Linked DNA regions of Homo sapiens: all the other regions are reported to be linked to region 1. The links are microRNA targets in miRTarBase. Many come from high-throughput screens and were not tested one by one. Region 1 holds a microRNA gene; each other region holds the end of a gene's coding sequence.

Region 1 (5,259 bases):
ATCTACTGTGTGCTAATAACTGTGTCCTTGCTGTATGACAGAAGCTATTTGGAGCGCTCTCAAGTGCTTATTACAGCTAGTCAAGGAAACCGCATATATAAAATAATACTGGATACAAGACTATACAATTAAATACTGGTGTATCACTAACAACTGTTTAGACCCTGTTTTTGCGTTAAGCATTGGGTTAGTCTCTGTCCTCATGGAGTTTTCAGTTTTATAGGGAATACAGACCTTTTAACAAGTATGTAAAGTACAGTAAAAGACAAGTACAGATTAAAATGAAATCATAAAATAGGAACCTTAGCCTAGTCTTCTGTGGTTCAGGTTAATAGTGCTGTTAGTAGTCAGAAGGAAGTTTTTTAAAGAAATGAAAAAGCTCAGTGGTTAAGATAGAAATTAAAGTTAGTCTTGATGGCTACCTAGATTTTGGATGAGTTCAAAGGATATACGGAGGGATTTCAGGCAAGATAATGTGAGCAAGGCATATCTGTGAAATAGAAAACAGTGCATTTTGGTGTATTGTGTGAAACAAGGTTGGTTGTGAAGGATTGGGTCCCTTCATAAAATTCCTTGAAAGCCAAGGAGAGTAGTTTAGATTTGAGATGGCAGGGTCTGGAGTGATTTAAGAATAAATTATAAAACCAAGGAAGATAAACTTGCAATCATAAGCAGGATAGGATATATACAGTATGGAAAGCTAAGCTAGAAAGCTGTTGCAATTTTCTTGCTATGAGGTGATGATAAAGAATTGATTAACGGTGGTCATATTCAGAAAGGATACTTAAGATTCCTGATATGCAGGGAGGGGGGAGAAAAAGTTGATGGTAACAGTACATTATATGTGGATGATGAGTATATTGGTGTTAGCACTGTTAAAAACATTATGGAAAGGAATGTAAGTGATAAAGTAGTATAATGACTAAATTTAGTTGGAAACTACTGCTGTAACAAATCTGTATACCATAGACCAAACAGGTGTTTAGTGGCCATTTAAAAATCTGTGCCATTATGGCAAAGGACATTTGCTTTGGTACAGAATAATCTGATCCACTGCGCAGTCAATGAGCAGTGAGGGTTGATTCCCATGGCAGTCCAATCTTTGCTTATCAAGGAAGGATGGTGTGAAGTTTCTACAGACTTTCTGGTAAGTGATTGATAGATGAGTTTATGGTGTGATTGAGTTTTTGCTTTGAGTTTATGCTTAGTGATTGATAGGTGAGTTTATGCTTTGTCAGGTAAAGCATTTAACTGCAAATGTATTATGTTTACACAAATATTCTTAATTGGAAATAGTTTCTGAATATGCACCTAAAAATGTTCTTATGAAATATGTCAGGCAGGCTGATTTTTAACTTGAAAACTTCTACTTTAAGAAATTGTTTGGGTCCCATCGCCTATACCATGTAGAATAGAAACAAAAAGCCAGTTATTTAATTTTTAATTTGCAATTAAACTCTTGGCCAAGAGGATCTGTTGTCCAAAATTACATCGTGATAGCTTAAGAAAAAAAAAATCTTACTTTGCCAGAAAGGGAATTATACAAGGATATCTTTATGAGTTGCTGCCAAATTTTGTTCTAGACCACGGCCCTCTGGCCTCCATGAAGGATCAAAGTCTGGGCAAAGACAATTCTAAGTTGTAGGTAAACATGCTTTTCATTTCCCTCCATTCCTTACTTTTGTCATAAGCAGTCTGGATTTTCAGGGGTAAAGGCTGATAGGGTTGCCAGATACAGTCATTAAAAATTGAGAATGTGCAGTTAAATTGGAATATCAGATAAACAATTTTAAAAATATATGTAACACACATATGCCAAAACACTGGTTATCTGAAATTCCAATTTAACTGGGCGTCCTGTATTTTATCTGACAAGCCCTAACTACTTCTTTAAAATAATTTGTTAACTTCCTACAAAAAATCTCTAAATGGGAGGAAAAAAAAAATCCCGTAAGTTGTCTGGGCCAAAAGCAGAAGTGGCTCCATGGCAGTCAGCCTTCTCCCTAACTTGGCTTAAAAAGAAAAAGCCAAAACCAGAAGTCCCAAAAGCTTGCGTTTAAAGCGGGCTGTGCCGCAGCTTTCCCGCCTGTTTTCTGCGGAATGTAGCACGGCAGCCACCCCGCGTGGGTGGGGCTCGTATGGTTGTGTCCTTGCTGGTTGGGAAAGGAGGTGCCGGAAACTTCAAACCACGGCCAGGGTACAACGTGTCCGCTTAGGCGGCGATATGCGCCGCCATCTTCTTTGCGGGCAAAGGCCGAAAAAAGTTTGGGACTCCACTCCCCCCCGCTGAGCCGATGGAGGGCATCGCCCGCTGCCTCAGCACTCTGGTGACGTGGAATCGGGGTCCCCTCTTTCAGGGCTGATTTCTGGTAGCACGCTGACGCCTGCCAAGGCAGGGAAAGGGGACGCCGCCTCTGTCCCGGATGTAAGATGGCGGCGCGGGGGGCGGCCTGGCGGGGCGGTCACGTGGTGAGGAGTAGCGCGCGAGCCTCCTTAAGTGATCTCTAAGGTTCGTCCGGACGCACAGGAGCAGCGGAGCGCGAGACGGGTCTTGTGTCCGCACGCGTCGAGTCGTCGCAGTCGCCACCCGGGCCATCGCCGGGCCCGGTTTCACTGTTAAGGGGTTTTCGTTTGTTCCGTTTTCGCCTCCTGTAGAGCTGAACGGGAATTCCCCGAAGGGTGCTGGGGAACGGGTGGCCTGGGGACTTCCCGGCTATGCCTTGGCTGCTGTTTGGCGGAGCCGGCGGCAGCCTCTGCGGGATGCCCGCCGGCGATTATCGGCGCCGAGAGCGGGCCGGCGGCGGGTTCGACAGCGCGGCGCGGGTGGGGGCCCGGGTACCGGACTCGGCCGCAGCCCAGCCCCCACCGGGGACTCGGAGCAGGGAGGGGCGCGAGCGGCGCAGCTCGGGACGTGGCGGCAGCTCCTAGCGGGCGAAGCGCGGGAGCGCTGCTCGCTGCCTCTCGGGGGCAGTCCAGAACCAGTTGGTGTCTGACTGCGCTTTTGCCGCCCATTTCCTGCTTTCGAGCGGCTGAGGCGACGCGCTCCCCTCGGGCAGTGGAGGGAGCGGCTCTCTCCGCAGGACACCGCCGCTTTTCTCTCTTCAGAGCGGTGGCTGACGTACAGAACGCCGGCTGTATCACCCGGGCGCCGGCGCCGCCTCTCATCCCCGTAGCTCTCGGGGCGCGCCGGGAGTAGCCGAGCCGCTGGGTGCTGGGCGGGGTCTCCGGGCGCGGCGCGGGGGGAAGGCAAAGGAAAAGAAGGGGCGGCGGGCCGACGTCGGCGGCGAGGAAGGACGGAGGAGCGCCGGAGCCGCTTTGCTGCCCTCCGCGTGGTCCCGTGCCTCCCCGACACCATGGCCCTGGCTGAGGTAGTAGTTTGTGCTGTTGGTCGGGTTGTGACATTGCCCGCTGTGGAGATAACTGCGCAAGCTACTGCCTTGCTAGTGCTGGTGATGCTCAGCGCCGCGGAGGACAATGGCTGGGAATCCCCTTTGTTTTCCGGGGCGCTGCCTGGGGACAGCCCGCGAAGCCTCGGCGCCCGGCCGGCGCGGCCACCACGGAAACCGTTAGTTTCACATTTTCCTAGAAGGAATTGAGGGGAGTGGGGTGGACCGCGATGCATTTTAAAGGTTGGGAAAGAGCTAAGCCATTGGATTCCTTTTCTTGAAGGAAGGAGTGGAATTGTGTAAGATAATTGATACAGATAACTTTTTCACCCTAAAAAATTCTAACACTTCTTTCAGCAGTTAAATGCCAAATTTAGTGTGTACCTGTTTTACTTCATTCTTTAGCTGTAGGTTGGAGTGGTGTGAGCGATCTGCAGAACTGGCATTAGAGGGGCAGAAGAAGTAGACCTGATAATTAAAGTTTATGCCTTAACATTTTAGATCTGGTTTCTGATATGCTCTCTTAGTAAATCTGAGTGTGTCTTTAAAAACGTAAACCCAAAGCAATTTAAAGTTTCTCTTTAAACTTTGCAACTCGCGAATGAGAAGATTGAAATTATTTGTAGGTAATTGCACTATTCCGATTTTTTAATGTATGAGGCAAACAAATAAATTCTATGTACAGTGTGCTGTGAATGGTTTTGTTTTTTGTTTTTTCTTTTTAGTTTAACCTTGGGGCTCAGATTCTGCTGGTGTGGTGGGTTGGTTTTTTGGTTTTTATGGCCTTTGATTCTAATGTTATGTGGTACTTACATCTTTGAGGTTTTGTATGGGAGAAGAGGACTAGGAATTGAAAGTGGTTTCTAGATTTGAGTTTAAAATCTACTAACACTCATTTTGATTCCTGAGTGGCCACTACTCCTAATAGGAAAATACCTTTGCATAGAGAAAAAAGGTAGTTTGGATAACTAATGAAAATACTCAGTGCTCTAATACCCTGAAGTCTGCGTGGAAAACAAGATACTTGTATTTTTATTTTATTTTCACTGAGGGAAGTAAGTGGTCAGTTTTAGTACTTTTCGTTGAAAACTGATCTGTATTTGTACAGAATAAGTAGTTTTGAATATAATGTAATCGCAGTTTTCTATGGTTTTCTGATGCTCAGTTGAAAAACAAATAAGGCAGTTCTTTAAACCAACCAAACCCTTCAGCAGGAGTTTGATGCTTTTATCATTCAAAAGTGATCTAATATATGTGCCTTGATTGGGTTTGGTTTAGCCTTGAGAATAACCTTACTTAATCTGATCTCATCAGGATGGAGCCGCCTCATTGTGGGAAGGGCGGTGAAGAACCTTATCTTGAATCTTAAGATGCAGAAAATGCTTGAATGTTGGCTCTTGAAGTTTGCTTTTCTTGATAGCAACGCAGAGTAAATTCAGGGCTTTGTTAAGTGCTTGTTTTCTTAAATAATGAAAACCTCTGCGGTGCTGTGTCAAATCTTGGTTTATGGAGAAACTAATCATAACATGCTAATTTCATTATGATTTTATTTTCCAAAACACTTCATTCAACCAACCGAGGTAATCTTCCAACCCACTACACTCTAACATTTTTATGGAGAATCAACGGTTGTTAATCTGCACCCCAAAGTATAACAAATTCTGCTGGTAATTTAAACTTTAAGCGGATAAGCACACCAGAAATGCTCAATGTCCTATACAGATAAACTATTCATACTTTATATCTTGTGTTTTTAAAGTAAATTTTATCCACAACTACATATTGCCCAAATAGTAGTAACATTTTTGAGTTATTGGATGTAAAGGTACTTTGAGAGGTTAACTGTTTCCTAAGTTACAAGAGAAAATACTGC
Region 2 (5,117 bases), not on the chromosome of region 1:
TGCATGTCTGCTTATTCGTATTAACACATTCTTAAATTATGAGTCTGCACTTTGAATCTTCTAAATTTAACATAACAAGAATGTGTTGTGGTTTAATATCTTGATGGAGACAACTCATAACCTATTTCAAGACTTCTGCTCAGGACACCTTAAAAAAAAATAGAGATGGTGTCTCGCTATGTTACCCAGGCTGGTCCCGAACTCCTGGGCTCAAGTGATCCTCCCTCCTTGGCCTGCAAAAGTGTCGGGATTACAGGCATGAGCTACCACGCCCAGCCAGGACCTTTTAAATAGAATTTTTAACTTGAGTTTACTAAATTCTAAACCAAGAGAAACATACTCATTACCATTTAGCAATTTACAGTTTAGTATATATTGTTCAGATACGTAAGCATGTAAGAGTGTGTATATATATATATGTGTGTGTGTGTGTGTGTGTGTGTGTGTGTGTGTGTGTGTATTTGGTCTTTTCTAAATAGTAGCCCTGTGGTTTTATGTTTTTGGAATTGCTGTGTTTTTTTAATGCCCTTTTTGCTCTTTCTTCTTCCACAGTGCCATGGAAAGCCATTCACTCCTCAATCCCAACCTGCAGCAAGGTGAAGGAGTCCTCTCCAGCTTCCGAACCACGTGGCAGGAGTTTGTGGAGGATCTGGGCTTCTGGAGAGTATTGCTGTTGATCTTCGTCATTGCTTTGCTGTCTCTTGGCATTGCTTATTATGTGAGTGGGGTGCTACCCTTCGTGGAAAACCAGCCTGAACTGGTGCATTAAAGGAGCTCATGGAAGATGAGGCAATTAATTGCCTGTTTCCTGGCTTCCAATGTTTGTTCTCAGTTTCTCAGAATTTTTCTTAGCGCAAAGCAGTGAGGGCAGTACATGTTCTTTTTGCATTTTTAATTATTGTAATCCTTTTAGATAATGATGTGTTCATTTGAACTAACTACATACTATGATCAAGTATATTGCATCCTAACGCTACCTCTGACTCAACCTGACTTTGTAGGAAAGCCTACACGTAGCCTTGTTTGATAAAAACACGGAAGTGACTAGAGAATGGAAGATAAAGGAAGAAGCTAGGAAGTCCTTGCTATCAAAACCTTATCCTAATATAGGACCAATTGAAGTATTCAAAAAGAAAAACAGTATCTTATATGATTAGTTTTTGTTGGTGGTTTTGTTTTCATTTATTTTTGCAAGAGCCACTTTTTATTTACTTTCTCTAGGGATAAGAGATAAAACTTGAAGTACTTTTTTCAAATCTTGTGTGCAAATTAGTATTGTTAGCATCTATTTGGCTTATTTTAGTATTTTTAAGTCTAGTCACAAACCAAACAAAACTTTTGAAAATGAGCTATATTTTGTTCAAAGATAATTGATTTGATCTTATATTTATTTGTTTTTAGGATAATTTTTGATCTTTTTGTAAACTGCTTTGCTTGTTAATATCTGTGAAAAATAAATGAGTTCATTTTGTTCACTTTCCAATTTTCCCGAGTATCCTAGTCATCAAAGATAACAGTTCATCAGAATTACAGTCAGAAAATCCTTTTTCTACTGAATAGTTAGCAGGGAAAAATAATTCTGATATTTAACTGTCATAATTCTGTAGTGCTATTATAGTGAAAAACTCAGTTCTATAAGCTAGCTGTGTTGTCACAGTTTTATCATAGTTCATAATTATTTCATGTGCAATCCTATTTGGAGGCCCTGTTAGACTTTTAACAATCCCATCCATATCTGTAATTCTCTGATGGCAAGAATGGATGGAGCATTTCTGAGTTAACAGTGCTGGACAGTATCGTACTGGGTGTCATAAACTCTTTATGAATGGTAATATTATGTAAATTGAAATCTGGCCCTCAAACTATATTGCAGCTTTCAGCAGTATGTTTGAAGGCCTCTTTTGTTAATGATTCTGTAATGTATGAATTATGTTCTTGAGTGGTTAAAAAAGAATATGAAGGCTTGATAATTATTTATTGGGTAAAGTCAGGAAATTGTAGTGAAAGAACTAATGGTTTTGTTTTTTGGAATAAAGGCACCTAAGCTATTGCTAATTGAATTGCTGCTAGAATTAGAAATTATGCTTTAGAATAGAATTGGTATTTCTGTGATTCTTTTTGCTTCTTGGTATTTTCTCTTGTATCTATGTATCTAGTATTGAGGCTTGCTCTTTCATGTGGCTTTATCCTCTCTTTAATAGCTGTTGTAAAATTCCTGAGTAACTGGCTGCTTCAGGATCAGCTTGCAGAGTCTTGCTTTTAGGTTAGATACAAACAAAGTAAATCATAGTTGGTGTAAATCCAGCAAAAAACAGCTGGCTTTGGAATGGAGAACACTACAATTCAAATTTGAAGTATATTCAGAAGAAAACTTTGGAATTAGCTTTACATTTGTTTGTAAATCTAAACAAATATGCAAAATTGGTCAAAATGTAAGTATATAGCATTTTTAAAGATTAATGGTTCCTTTTATGTGCTGATTTCTTTGTATTCTGTTCTCTGCATTCATCATTCAGGAATACCACCAATAAATGTATTTATATATCCCTTAATCACGATTTCTCTTTTTTTTTTTTTTTTTTAGTGTATTATAGTTTTAATTTGGGGATTTTGTAATGGATTGCAATTAGCTGCTTTTTAAAACACAGCTTTTTTTCAAACCTAATGTATTAGGTATATTGAGTTTCATATATGTTTGCCTTATAAATACTGTGAAATTAATTTGAGTGAATTGCTCGTAGATTTAAGGGTGATGATCATAACTACCACAATTAAGCCCCTCCCAATTATGCAAGTTTTTAGCATGCAAGTTTTACCCTACGCCCCCTTGAGCACTACATGACCCCAGTTTATAAGATGAGAAAATGGACACAGGGATGGCTAAGTAACTTGTCCAAGGTCAAACAGGTAGGACCTGGTGGAAGAGGGATTCCAGATTGAGGCTCCAGCCCCAATTATGCTTGTGCTTTCCTCCTGTCCCGCTGTCTTTCATGAATCTGGAAATGGAACCATATTTATCCAGAACCTCGCCTGATACCATTTCAGCAGGACATTACTAAATTTTCCACTCGTGGTCCTATATACTTACTTTTTTTCCTTTCTTACACATCTTCCCAGTGGTAGAAGCTTTAATATTCAAGCTCCAACCCTGGCTTGTCAGAAAGTCTTCCATAGTTAACCGTACTTGACTGCCTCCTTCCCAACCCCTCCTTTCCCCACCACTTACCACACTCAGTTTTATTACTTGTATTTTGCATTCCTTGATCCGTTTCTCTGTAAACATGATTTTCTTTCTAACTTGTTTAATTGTAAGCTTCATGAGAGCAGGGACTTAGTCTATTTTTATAACCCCATCTGTCTACAGAGCATCCTGTAGAGCTCTTGGTACACAAATACTTATAGCATTGCTTTTATACCTGTAGCTATATTTTTTCTTTTCAGGTTGAATAGCTCTTTGCCTTTTATGCATCCCCCGCAACAAGCTGCAGGTGTGAGCTGTGCTTGGTCCTCCTTCCACAGTGCGCCTGTAGCTTCATGAACGAACTATACAGGCTGGCAGTGTGGAGCCCCCTCACCTGTGGAGCATGCAGGCTTCCGATCAGCAGCACCTGCCACAGGTTTACCACTTCGTGTAGAAGCCCAGGAACAATATTCACCTGCCACTGCTGCTGTTTTGGTTTCTATGTTTTTATTTCAAAACCAGGCCTCAGTCTTTGACTTGTGAAATTGTTTATGCATGTATCAAAGTGCTTTCAGCTGCAGGAACCAAAATCCGAATTCAAAACGGCTTACCCCATAGGAAATGTATTTGTTTATGTAACTGAAAGTCCAGTTACATAAAGCCCGTTTACATAAAAAGGTAGGGTTGACCCCAAGGGTGACATCATCCAGAATCTTTAGCCCAGTTCCCTTGTGCTCTTGCCCTGCCCTCCTTGTTGGCTGCTTCCTCCAGCTGGTTCTGCAATGAGTACAGAATTTTTAGACATCACATCCATTTATCACCACATAGAGAAGAGACCGTCTTTCCTGTGACTCCCTCGTAGGAAACTTTGATGCAAACAAGCTGTTTCATTGGCTGACATGATATCATGTACCCCATTCTCAAACCAACCAGTACCCTTACACAGGTTGACTTAGGCCTGGATTGATGAACCAGTCATTGGCAGGGGTGGGGTTGGTAGAATTCATATGTTGAGCTTGGACTAATGGTTTTAGAAGTGATTAGGGCCACTCCTGGCAATCAGTGGGCAGGGACCATAGTTGTTTTACATCCCACAGTGCATGGGACAGTTTAGTCTAACAAAGGATTGTTCTAAATCCCACATGATTCTTGAATGTTCTGCTGGACATTCGTGTGTTTAGAAAACAAACAATTTTAGATATCTGAACCTAAAACCCAACCATTTCACATTTTAAAACAAGGTATTATTTGGTATAGTTTTATTTTTTTATTTTATTTATTTTTTTTTTTTGAGACAGAGTCTCGCTCTGTCGCCCAGGCTGGAGTGCAGTGGTGCAATCTTGGCTCACTGCAAGCTCTGCCTCCCGGGTTCACGCCATTCTCCTGCCTCAGCCTCCTGAGTAGCTGGGATTACAGGGGCGTGCCACCACGCCCAGCTAATTTTTTGTATTTTTTAGCAGAGACGGGGTTTCACCATGTTAGCCAGGATGGTCTCGATCTCCTGACCTCGTGATCCACCCGCCTCGGCCTCCCAAAGTGCTGGGATTACAGGCGTGAGCCACCCCACCCGGCCTGGTATATAGTTTTAATGTATCATGAATTTTCCAAGAATACAACCACGAGATAATTAAGGGAAGATTCGACTTCATTTTGTTCAAAACTTTATCAAGAATTGCACCGCTTTTCAAAAATCTTGTTATTGACAGCAGTGCTACTTATAATTAAGTCATCAACATAATTCTATTACAGATAGTAATGACTTCGTTGTTTCTTCTAATGTAGCTGGGCCTGAGCATTTACATATTGAAATATACATTTTATTATAAATTTCTTTCCCTTTATTTTGTGTTTCTATTACATAATTTATGTGAAATCATTTTATTGATTTTGACAGTTGTTAACTCCTACTTATCTGGGAGCCATTCTATAGCTTAGC
Region 3 (5,117 bases), not on the chromosome of region 1:
TCATCCTCTGAGACCAGCCCAACTGCCCCTGGTCTGTGAAGTGTGATCCCCAAAGCCATCAGGCAGGCAACCTACCTCCCTGGGGACAGGATGAGACACAGAAGCCCAACTGAGCTACAGACCTACTGTCCTCCAGTGGGCAGATCCAAAGTGTTCATTACACAATAGATCAATGACCCCCCAAGTGGACGGACCAAGGTGCCCACCACATTAATAGAAGGACGACCCCAGTAGGTAAGGCCCAGGTACTCATTAGGTAACAGATTGCTGAGAGATGAATGGGGGACCCATAACATCCTCCTGCAGCAAGTGGCAGGGGCCTGTCCAGCTGAGGTCTCATGGCCACTGGGTCTCTCCAACAGTCCCCAGGGCTGGCTCTGGTCGGGGACCTAGGCACATGTGCACACTGTACGGAGCCCAGTAATTGTGACAAGTATGGTGTTCTTGGGAAGCACACTCCCTAAGCCGCAGTGAAATCAATGCCCTGTCCACCTTTCCACCTTGTGACATTGGTCAAAGGTCTGGGCAATGACTGGCTTCAAAGACTCAATGGGAGCTTCCTGTTGGACAAGATTTAATCTGCCACCACCTGCCCTCTCTTCTGCTCCAAAGCAGTAGTACCGGGACCATTTCAAGTTCACTCTCCCAACATAGCTGGGGTGAAATATCTCTGTGTCTCCTCAGAGTGGAAAGCTACAGTCTCTGGGGGCTGACCACGCAGGCAGAAAACTGTGCACAGGGTGGCAGCTAACTGCCATCTTTATCTGTCCATAACCAAATGAGCCCAAAGCATTGCTTCTTTTCTGGTTTGGATCTGAGGGAGTGAGGTTAGATGGGGTCCTGTGTCCCATCACCTGACTCAGGAGGGAGGGGACAGGCCCAAGAGGGCAGAGTCCGTAGAAAAGGGCAAACTCCCTTAAGGTGGGGAGGGAGGAGCCTTGGCTGGGGGAACAGAAGAGGCAGGTGACACTGGCTGTCTCCAGCATCTGTTGATGTGTAAGTGAATCCACCAGTCTCAATATTCACTTTTAGTGCCCACTTCAATAGACACTGGGAGGTCCTTCAGGAGCTGGCCCACTTCAGGGGTGTGTTTCTGCAGCCAGTGTGTGTGTAGGGGTATTCATAGCAACATCGAAAACATGTCAGGACCCATTATCAACACTGCATTGTGGTTAATCTTCAAAGATCTTTGAATATAACATTTCAAAGGTCTCTGGGCAGAAATCTTAATATATTCCTGACAGCAAAACATTTGTGATTTTATAACTGAATCCACTGATTTGTAAACACACAGACACACATTCATGAACGAGCACACACGCAGACGCACAGACACATGTGGACAAAGATACATCTGTGCAAGCACATGCACACATTTGCAGAGACACATACACAAAAGTGCACACATGCACACGCATACACACATGTGCAAACACACACAAACATACTTCAGGGTACACAAATACCGTCTCACGGAGGCTTACCAAGTTCATAATTTTATTATACTCTGAATAGAGATGATATTTAAGGAGCAGAGAAAATGACTATACAAAAGATTTATAGAACATTCATTTACATACTGGATATATTCTTTACAGTATCAGAAAAGTAAAAATATGCACTAACAAGGCAGAGAAGACGTTACAAGGTATTTGATGCTGAGAATAAATGCACAGTGACTTTTAACATGGCTATAGCTTAACACTGGAGGAATACAACAATACGTTCTTTTACTGAGTAGTTAGTAGGACCCTGGCTATAACATGCGTTGGGCACAGTTCGTGAACTCTCCGCATTTACTCCCCAGGGCAGTACGTGCCTGTCCAGCGGGAGCCCTGGAGACAAAATGCCTGGAAACGTTCCTTTTCCTGTGGCCCTAGAGCCGGTGTCCACGGTGGGGGCTCTCTCACGGTTTCTGAGCCCACAGTACAATCTGTGATGACACACAGCTTGTTCTGTTTAATGCACATGTAACACAAAAGGAAGAAAGAAACTTCCTATACCAGCTCTTCAGAAATCGTGGAAACTTGCTTCCTTTGGTTCCTCAGAGGGAGCTATCTGCTTGGAGCAAATTCCCCGATGCCCTTGACCACGTTTACCTTGTGTAAAAATCACACCTGGCCAATGAGTTCAAAAAGCACGTTTGCAGGGCTTCCTGAATGCCGTCGAGGCATGGCTTCATGAGGGCCATCGCGGGCACCCCGATGTCTCTGTGATTCCCTGGCAGGCTGCGTTTCTCAATACTGAGACCCTAGTTTGCTCTGACTTCTAAATGAGCTCTCTCATCCTTCATCAGAAGGATAAGGAACCTGGCCTGCACTCTTTGGGTTAAACATGGGTAGAGACCGTCTCAGGATGAGGACCTCTTGGGGAAAGTACAAACCTCTGCTCCCTGTGGCCACATTCCTGCAGTGGATGAAAAACCGAGATGCTAGAGGCCTCTGCTAAAGACATCAGGGTCAACACATGAGGATCTGCTGAAAATGCCAGCACCTCCTGACAGTCATGCCACCGCAAGTTAGAGAAGGAGGTCCACAACGACCAAGGCAAACATTTGGCACAGAAATGAGGCACTTGGTTTGGTGCATCAATAGGAGCTAAAAAGTGGAATGGTCCACCTGCTTTCACACACGCATACACGCACGCATGCACACACGCACACACACACAACACCCACTGTGATTTGGCTGCTTCCAACTCTGCCTGTTTCTAAGTTTTCCTCGGCCCCTCACTTTAAAGCAGAGTTCACAAAGCACATTCCCAAACCCCAGCTCCCTGACAGGAGCTTGTGACACCAGTGTGGCCTAAGAATGGGGGATTTGACTTTTGAAAGCAGAGGAGGGAATTTCGGGCTGGATCGCAATCAGGACAGTCAGCATGCCTGCAGAGCACCTAGGCTGTGAGAGGATGGGGCCAAGGCCTTATTCTGATGTGGCCCAGCTCCATCTTTCACTCTGGGGATGTTCCAGGGTCACAAATTCCCCCAAACCTTTGACCACGAACAGATTCAAGCAGGAAAACCAGGGCATTGGAATGTTGAAATAAGCCTGAAATACACTTGATTCAGTGGCTTAGATGATGGCAAACAGTGGCACTCAAAAACAGCTTGTCAGTACCGGGGTTTCTTCTCTTTTTCCTCATCCTCCCTTCTGCTCACACATGCCACAACCACACATGGTCCCCAGCAGGAACCCCAAGGTGGCAAGGAGCAGCACAAAGAGGGCTGATAAATGCAGGCGAACTTCAGGTCGTGCAGCTTCAGGCCTGAAGATGATCGAAAAGCCCATGTGGGGGATGCTGAGCTTAAATCCAGGAGTTTTCCATCCCTCCTGGACTCTCTCCATCAGAAAAGAAGTCATCCACAATCGGGGAAAAACATTCCAATGAGTAAAACATCAGGGTAGGTTGCTTGAGGCAAAGCCACCTTTGGGCGGCACCGCATATGGGAGACCCACAGTCCACTGCACACTCTTTCAGTGGCCAGGGGCCTGCGGTGCATCCTACATAGGGACAAGCCTCACAAAATCACAGCTTGGCAGGCTGCAGCATTTGACACTGGTACAGTATAGCAATGGCAAATTATCATAAATAATTTGGCATAAGTAAAATATAAATTACATAGAAATAATATTTTTGTTCCTTCTTCTCATTTCTCCTCTCGGTCCTCACAGGCTCTCCCCAGCCCAGCTCGCCCAGCTCGCCCAGCTCGCCCAGCTCACCACAGGTGAGCAGGAGGCACAGAGCACTCACCATGGTGGGGTGGCATGGGGTCTCCAACGTGGCCAATTCTTCCCACCACCCCCATCCTCACAGCCCATCGCAAAGGCCCCTCGTTGTAGGCCCTGCTGTGTTCCAGAAGGGCCTGACTTGCACAAACCTTCGTCAAACATACGCCCCCTTCTCAGTTTCGTTAGCATCTCCATCTTGGGAAGACCGAGGTGAGGGAAACCCCCGGCCTCGGGTGCAGCTGGACAGAAGCGCCCATGCGGACGGGCGAAGCATGGCAGTCACTCGGCACCTCTGCCTCAAGGGCTGGGGATTCCTCATCCCCCGGAATGCTAGTGTGCCAGGGACATGGGGACCACCTCGTGTTCTGTGCTGTTTCCTTGCATGTCCCTTTCCCATGGGGACCCTAGGGGGTGGGGTGCACCCATGCCCAGCTTCTTCTACCCAAAAAGCATGTGGCTACAGAGATGTGTCAGATAAGTCACTTTCAGGAAAGGCCAATTCACGGTGATGTTGTTTGTTCTTGTTTTTGCAGAGCTGGAAGATCCTCTTTCCCCTCATGGGCCTGGAATGTCAGGTTTACTAGTTTGGTAAAAAGTGGGGGCCCCACCCTCACCCAACGGCTGTCTCCAGGGCTTCGAGAGGCATCGGTGGGTCCAGGGAGGGAGGGGAGTTCTCAGACCTTCTTTGGGGAACCAATCATGACCTTTGATACGAAGTTGACAATGGCACTGGCAGGCTGCTCAGGGTCATGCTCTGCAAACAGGTGGCACACATTATCCGTGGCACTGCCCTGCTTCCGGGCCACAAATCCAAAGACTCTGCCAAAGGAAAGTCCAGTCAGAGTGGTCAGTGTCCCACAAAGTACCAAGCTTCTACTTCCTCCAGCTGCCAGCGGCACTGTCAGGAGGAATTTTAAGTGGCACCTATCAAAAATCAACCACGTGCCCAGCACCCTGCTGGCCACCTGTTCATGCACTTTACCTCCAGCCTTCACAGACCTACAGATGGGATGTCTGACTCTAGCTCTGCAGTGAGGACCCTGAGGCTGAGAGGTGAGTGCCCTGTCCACAGCCCCAGGTTAGGACCTGAATCAAAGCTGAGGCTCAACTTCCTCTATAGATGCTTCCCCACGCCAGGGCCAGAATCTCCTGGGCACCTGTCCCTGCAGATTCCTGAGCCCCAGTCCTGACATACTGGACCACAGTCTGCAAGGCGAGTGGCAAGGGACTCAGGGGCTCCTGAGATGATGCCAGAATGCAAGTCCTGTCTGGACTTCGACACTCCCACCCACTGGGACCGAAGGGGAAATACACTAGGCGCTCCTCTCAGGCCTTGGAAGCCTGCATTACAAACTACATAGACTTCAGGGAGCTGTTTAAAAAGAACAG

The links. The annotated mature microRNA hsa-let-7i-5p reads UGAGGUAGUAGUUUGUGCUGUU and lies in region 1 at 3,365-3,386, shown strand. An mRNA with a match to its seed (bases 2 to 7 or 8) in the 3' UTR can be bound and repressed. Matches are read on the target gene's strand: a 7mer-m8 pairs with bases 2 to 8, a 7mer-A1 pairs with bases 2 to 7 and ends in A, and an 8mer does both.
Region 2: the mRNA of ANKRD46 is a reported target of hsa-let-7i-5p. Seed matches in the 3' UTR shown: 7mer-m8 at 974-980.
Region 3: the mRNA of TNS3 is a reported target of hsa-let-7i-5p. The part of its 3' UTR that is shown has no 7-base or 8-base seed match.

The regions. Positions count from the first base shown.
Region 1 is chr12:62,600,327-62,605,585 of GRCh38, forward strand. MIRLET7I (microRNA let-7i) reads left to right here and starts at 3,360; the gene lies at 3,360-3,443. LINC01465 (long intergenic non-protein coding RNA 1465) reads right to left here and starts at 3,108. Exons shown (of 1, transcript NR_121682.1): 1 at 1,425-3,108. It overlaps MIRLET7IHG (MIRLET7I host gene), which reads left to right and starts at 2,417. Exons shown (of 2, transcript NR_186001.1): 1 at 2,417-2,509. It overlaps MON2 (MON2 regulator of endosome-to-Golgi trafficking), which reads left to right. Exons shown (of 35, transcript NM_015026.3): 35 at 1-150. RefSeq lists enhancers at 1,711-2,234, 2,235-2,756, 2,271-2,380, 2,461-2,650, 2,757-3,278 and 1 more and silencers at 2,731-3,040, 3,131-3,430.
Region 2 is chr8:100,518,207-100,523,323 of GRCh38, reverse strand. ANKRD46 (ankyrin repeat domain 46) reads left to right here. Exons shown (of 5, transcript NM_001270377.2): 5 at 553-2,552. The coding sequence ends at 769. Among named protein-coding and RNA genes, the nearest start is that of ANKRD46, 39 kb to the left of the region's middle.
Region 3 is chr7:47,273,674-47,278,790 of GRCh38, forward strand. TNS3 (tensin 3) reads right to left here. Exons shown (of 31, transcript NM_022748.12): 31 at 1,481-4,547. The coding sequence ends at 4,403. Among named protein-coding and RNA genes, the nearest start is that of SNORD151, 190 kb to the right of the region's middle.